2 separate regions of the Homo sapiens genome follow, and region 1 is linked to region 2. Evidence: fine-mapped expression QTL. A gene starts in region 2. The other region holds a variant in brackets. All regions are shown on one strand. Distances are from middle to middle.

Evidence for each region. PIP is the estimated chance that this variant, and not a neighbour inherited with it, causes the effect. A credible set is the group of variants that fine-mapping cannot tell apart.
Region 1: its variant is the best candidate, but not a certain one, in a credible set for the expression of HNRNPF in whole blood (TOPMed, PIP 0.85).

Annotation. Positions count from the first base shown.
Region 1 is chr10:43,375,842-43,378,742 of GRCh38, forward strand. It overlaps FXYD4 (FXYD domain containing ion transport regulator 4), which reads left to right. Exons shown (of 9, transcript NM_173160.3): 8 at 191-228; 9 at 306-494. The coding sequence ends at 325. Among named protein-coding and RNA genes, the nearest start is that of FXYD4, 5.7 kb to the left of the region's middle. The variant C/T (reference allele first, on the strand shown) is at 1,438.
Region 2 is chr10:43,408,071-43,410,971 of GRCh38, forward strand. It overlaps HNRNPF (heterogeneous nuclear ribonucleoprotein F), which reads right to left and starts at 1,116. Exons shown (of 4, transcript NM_001098204.2): 1 at 1,061-1,116. RefSeq lists enhancers at 1-446, 1-225, 956-1,015 and silencers at 736-855, 1,306-1,535.

The sequences.
Region 1 (2,901 bases), 32 kb before region 2:
GCTTTGTTATTCAGATAGTCAACCCTGAAGGGCCCCAGTCAGGAAAGCTCTGACCTCGGTATTGTGGGAAGTGACCATGGAAGGAGAGCAAGGACTTGCACTCCTGGGGCCGGGCAGCAAGAGTCTGGGATATAGGGGAGAAGGTCCTCCAGGCTAACCTGATACTACTCTGATGTGGTCCTTTCTCTAGTCCTGTACCTGAGAAGGCCATCCCACTCATCACTCCAGGTGAGACGGGCTTCTGTGGGCTGAGGGGGTGTCTGTGTAAGGACTGTGTCTGATGGCCTGCCCGCCACTCTCCGCAGGCTCTGCCACTACTTGCTGAGCACAGGACTGGCCTCCAGGGATGGCCTGAAGCCTAACACTGGCCCCCAGCACCTCCTCCCCTGGGAGGCCTTATCCTCAAGGAAGGACTTCTCTCCAAGGGCAGGCTGTTAGGCCCCTTTCTGATCAGGAGGCTTCTTTATGAATTAAACTCGCCCCACCACCCCCTCCTCGGTAGTCTTGTGATCCATCGTCTTTGGGTCTGGGGGTGGGTAATCCCTTGGATTGCTGACTTTCCCTGGATGCCCACTCCCAGCAAGCTTCCCAGTCCCTGAGTCCCTGCCGCCCAACTGTCTCCTATGGCTCCCACTCCAGCAAGCCCCACAGAGAGACCCATGCACTGTGAGATACCACAGTGTTATAACAGAAGACCTTTCCATTTCCACCACTTGCACGGGGGCCCTAGAAGTCCTGATGCCTCAGGTACCCATGACTTCCTTTAATCTAGAGCGACCCCCAGGGCTCACCCCCCCATTGAGACCTCAATTGAGACCCCCCATTGAGACCTCACCCAGTGAATGCTCTCTATGGTAGAAAATGTAGCAATTCCTTTGACCCATCCCAGTAAAATCCTCAGCTCACCCCATGGGCCCCCCTCCTCCCAGGAAATATCCTGTGAAATTCCATGAAGAAGTATGTCTCGAGAAGCCCTGCATAGTGCATGTGGGAGACAAACACCATGTGTGCAAATCCAAGTTCTTTGGCATGCCTGAACTCCCCTCCAGGAAGACTTCCCTGGCAATGTCCCTGTGGCACCCCAGGCAGGGGTGTGAAGTGCCACTTCTGCCTGGTGCCCATCCTGCAGTCCTGCCCCTTGACAGCCCAGGAGAAGGAACTGAGACCACTTCTAGCCTCTGCCTCCAGCAAAGGCCAGAGAACAATGGAGTCCCCGCCAGGTGGCAGCTCCCAATCTGAGGCCAGGGCTTGGGCTGGGCAGCTGTCTCCAATGATGCACCCTTCCTCCATGTCTCAGGGTGGGCCACATCCTTGAGAAGTATGATGTATCCTAGACTTAGGGTCACCTGCCTTGTGGGTGGGGTCAGAGACTTGTGCAGGGCCCCAGAGGTGTAAAAATGAGGTCCACATGTCTTCCAGGGCCTTTGAAACAGGACA[C/T]GTAGGGACTGAGAGCAAGGTTCCAAGGTGGGGCTGAGTGGGACTAAAGATACCTGGCTGAGTCCAGCCACTATCAGGGAATCTTGGGTGGGTCACAGAAGGCCTGGCAAGCCCCAGTGCTTTGGGGAAGCTGTCCTGTACCAGCAGCCCCAGGTGGTATGGCCAGCCCAGAGGCAGCGCTGAGTCTGCACAGGTGGACCTAGGGAGGGGCCTGTGCGCAAACCACCCTGGTGGAGGGAATTAGCAGCACGACTGGAATGCAGGCGATAGGATCACTGAGGAGGCAAGGCCCAGCCCTGCAGGACGCAGAGGCAGGGGTGGGAGCCACCCAGCAGGGCTGGTAGAAGGGGGCTCCTGAGCACGCCTCCTCATCCAGGGGGTGCAGTGCAGAGCTCTCTCCTCGTTGGCACGGGAAGACGCTGGTGTGAGAGACTGCTTTTGAGAACATGAAAAGTGCGGTAAGAAAGCCAAGTCTGGAGTGGCAGACCCAGGGGAAGCCACACAAAGGTGACCGGAAGCAGTGCATGCTTTCTGACTGAGGAACCCAGGGCCACGCAGTCACGACTATCAGGAGCTCTGCTGTTTGAAATCCTAGCAAACCCTGTCCTTGCATGGTGGCCCCATGACCCTGACAAGAGATGCAGCCTCAACTTCCAACCCCAGTGCCCCACTGGGGAGCAGAGGTTTCTGGACGTGACAGCCACCCACCTCCACCTTCACATGTATCCTGGGGCCACGTCGTGGTGGAGACCTGCCGCTCTTCTTTCAAGCTCTCATGCTGCTTCATTTAAACTTCTCCTGGACAGGTGTCACAGTTCCCCCAAGTCCTATAAGTGACCACTTATGTAGGAGGCCCCACCACACGAGTCCCTAGGTGTGACTGTCCAGTGACAGGCTTATCTCTCTGATGTGGAGGGTGACGGCTCTCGCTCATGGAACCTGGGAAAATCATGGTGGGAGGAGTCAGAAACTGATGGGAGGCCAGGTCTGGATGACAGTGGAGGATGGAGTCAGTGTTAGCCCCAGATGGACAAGGCCAGGCCCTGGAGTTGGGACCCTGGTTCCCAGGGGAAACGAGCTCTCCTCTCTCCCTTCTGGGAGTGAGGAATGGGCTGACTAGGGCATGACAGAGGCTCTCCAGGCTTCCCTTTGTGGGATTACTGGCTGTGCGTCAGAGACCCCTTCCTGGGGCCTGTTTCAGAGCTGGTGGGTGATTTCCCCTTGTCATCCTCTCCTAGTTGAGGGGCTGTGGGGAGAGGTAGGGGGGACCAGAGAAAGCAAAGTGTCATTTCCACTCAATTGGGGATTTACTGAGTGACAGACACCACTGTAAACACTTCACACATGTCAAATTTTCCTAGCAACCTATGTGATGCGGATGACATTAGGGTTAGGGTTAGGTTAGAGGAGAGGAGGCACCCAGAGGTTCTCATGGGCTAACGAATTCCACAGCCAGCCTCCAAC
Region 2 (2,901 bases):
GCCACCACACGTGGCTAATTTTTTTTTCTTTACTTTTCAGTAGAGACAGTCTATGTTGCCCAGGCTTGTCGGGAACTCCTGGGCTCAAGAGATCCTCCCGGCTGGGCCTCCCACTGCGCCAGGCCTGTTCTCACTTTCAGAGCCCTCCGGCAGTCGCCAGCTCCCCGCCAGGGGGCCGGACTAACGCACCCGGCCGTCCGTGCCTTCCCCGCGCTTTCCTGACTCCAAAATCTCAGCCCGCGGTGCTCACCGCGTGGGACCACTGTCTGGGCGTGCGGCTCTCGACCTCCGACGCTGCGTCTCCCGATCCCAGTGGGTCCAGTTCTTGCCGGTCCCACGTACGGGCCCCTCGACCTCGAATCCCGTCACCCAAATCTCAGCGCCACGGCCCCTCATTATGTGCAGTCCTCGCTCGGTCCCAGGTTTGCGGCGCTTAAACTCAGATCGCTCTTCCCTGATCCCAAATCCCAGCCCCAGCCCAACGATCCCCACCCCAATAGGCCCAGTCCCCAGGTAGTCCGGGTACGGGGCCCTGGACTTCGGATAGTCTCCCTAATCTCAAATCCCACCCCCCGTCCCCACCCCCAGGGGGACCCGGTCCCCGCTAGGTCCCGGGTGTGCGGCCTTCGACCTCGGAGACTTCGGCCGCCCCTCACCTCGGCCTCCGAGTCTCTACACTCCCGCTCTCATATCAGGCACCCCGGTGGTCCCTTGGAGCACCTAGAGGAGGGTGGGACGCGGGGAACTTGGCAGTTGTAGCAGAGGCAGTTGAGGCTTGTTGACCATCACCATGGAAACCCCCGCCTGCGAGCACGGGGCGGAGCCTACGAGGGGCGGGGTCAGGCGCGCTGCCGGCCCCAATCCTCAGCGCCTGCCCGTCGAGCGCACGCGGCTTTGCCGGAAGCCCTCCTGCTCCCGGCGAGCCAGGCCCCGACTAGGCCCTACTGCCCGGCTCAGCCCTTTGCCCTGGACACCAGGAAACAGAAGCCCAAGGAGCCCGCGTCCCCACCCCCTGCTACCTGCCGGCGTGACAGCGATTCGGTGGCCCCCCGAACCCCACCTTGAGGAAGACGCGGCGCAGTCCTGCTTCCACGACGGAGCCGGAAGGACGCAAGGACCGCGGCAGGGCGGAGTTTCTGCGTCCGGCGTCCGGGGGCGGGGCCGCGACGGCGCATTGTGACGCGCCAGAGCTGAGCCGCCGGTTGGCCGGCTGGGCGCGGAGCAGAGCCGACACGGCTGGCGGGGGAGGCGGTGGAGGCGGACAAGCGAGGACGTTTCTGGAGAGGAGAAGGGAGGGGAGGGGAGGGGATAGGGGGAGGGGGAGGAGGAGGAGGGAGTGGAGCGGCGGGAAAGATCCCTCTGACTGCCCCTGAGGCCCTGGAGGAAGGACACTGGTGAGCCCCGCAGGACACTGAAATGTGCGCCGAAAGGACGCCTGATGGAAGACTAGGATGGGAAAAGGAAATGAGAGCCGATGGCAGGGCGTGGTGGCGCAAGCCTGTGGTCCCAGTAATTTGGGAGGCTAAGGCGGGAGAATCGCTTGAGCCCGGGAGGTCGAGGCTGCAGTGATCCGTGACTGCTCCATTGCGTCCAGCCTGGGCGACAGAGCGAGGCGCTGTCTCAAAAAATAAAATAAGGAAAGTAGTACACTGAAGGCCGGGCGCGGTGGCTCACGCCTGTAATCCCACCACTTTGGGAGGCCGAGGCGGACGGATCAGGCGGTCGGGAAATCGAGACCATCCTGGCCAACATAGTGAAACCCCTACTAAAATACAAAAAAATTAGCCAGGCGTGGTGGCGCGCGCTTGTAGTCCCAGCCACTCGGGTGGCTGAGGCAGGGGAATCGCTTGAACCCGGGAGGCGGAGCTTGCGTGAGCCGAGATCGCGCCACTGCACTCCAGCCTAGCGACAGAGCGAGACTACGTCTCAAAGAAAAAAAAAAAAAAAAGGTACACTGAGTACTCCGGAGACCGCCTAAAGGGGTCTCAGAGCAGGGCGTTAGGAGGGATTTGTCAGGTTGAAGTTGCTCAGGTGATAAATTCCGTGGTGTGAGAAGCCCCCAAACCTCAGAATGTAACTCAGACCCAGGTCGAGGGCAAGATTTTCAGTCACAGAGCACCTGAACACACAGATTTGGTGGCTAATGGCTAAGCCAGGGACAGATTTTCTTTCTTTTCTTTTTTTTTTTGATGTATTGTAGGGCTAATAATTGTAACCATTTTATTTTGGTGGATCTTCTTCATGAAGAGATGATGTCAAGGCACTCATCACAGGTTAAGCTGAACATTGTTACTATTGTTATTATTTCCAGACTGAGTATCGCCCTGTCATTCAGGCGGGAGTGCAGTGGTACAATCACGGCTCACTGCAGCCTCGACCTCCTGGGCTCAAGCGATCCTCCTGCCTCAACCTCCTGAGTAGCACCACCACTCTCGGCTAAATTTTGTATTTTTTGTAGAGGCGAGGTTTCGCTGTGTTGCCCGGGCTGGTCGGGAACTCCTGGACTCAAGCCATCCGCCCACCTACGCCTCCCAGAGTGTTGGGATTACTGGATTGAGCCACGCATCTGGCTGAACGTTATTTTTTAAATCACCAGAGAAAGTAAAGGAGTGCTCAAAATAGTGTCAGATGATGAGTGGGATGATTGTGATGAAGGAAGGAGTTTGTTAAAAGAAAAAGCTAGTTCCAAGAAAGAGAATGGAAAGAGTAAAGCAGGAGCTGTCAGAATAGGTAAAAATGTCCAAAGAGAAAACTGCATAATTTGAGGCAAAATTACAGAAAATAGTTCCTGCAAAAATCAGATAGGTATTCAGCATCATAGGAAAGGGGCGAAAATCAGATAGGTAGGTATTCTTAAGAAGTTGTGGCCGGCCGGGCGCGGTGGCTCGCGCCTGTAATCCC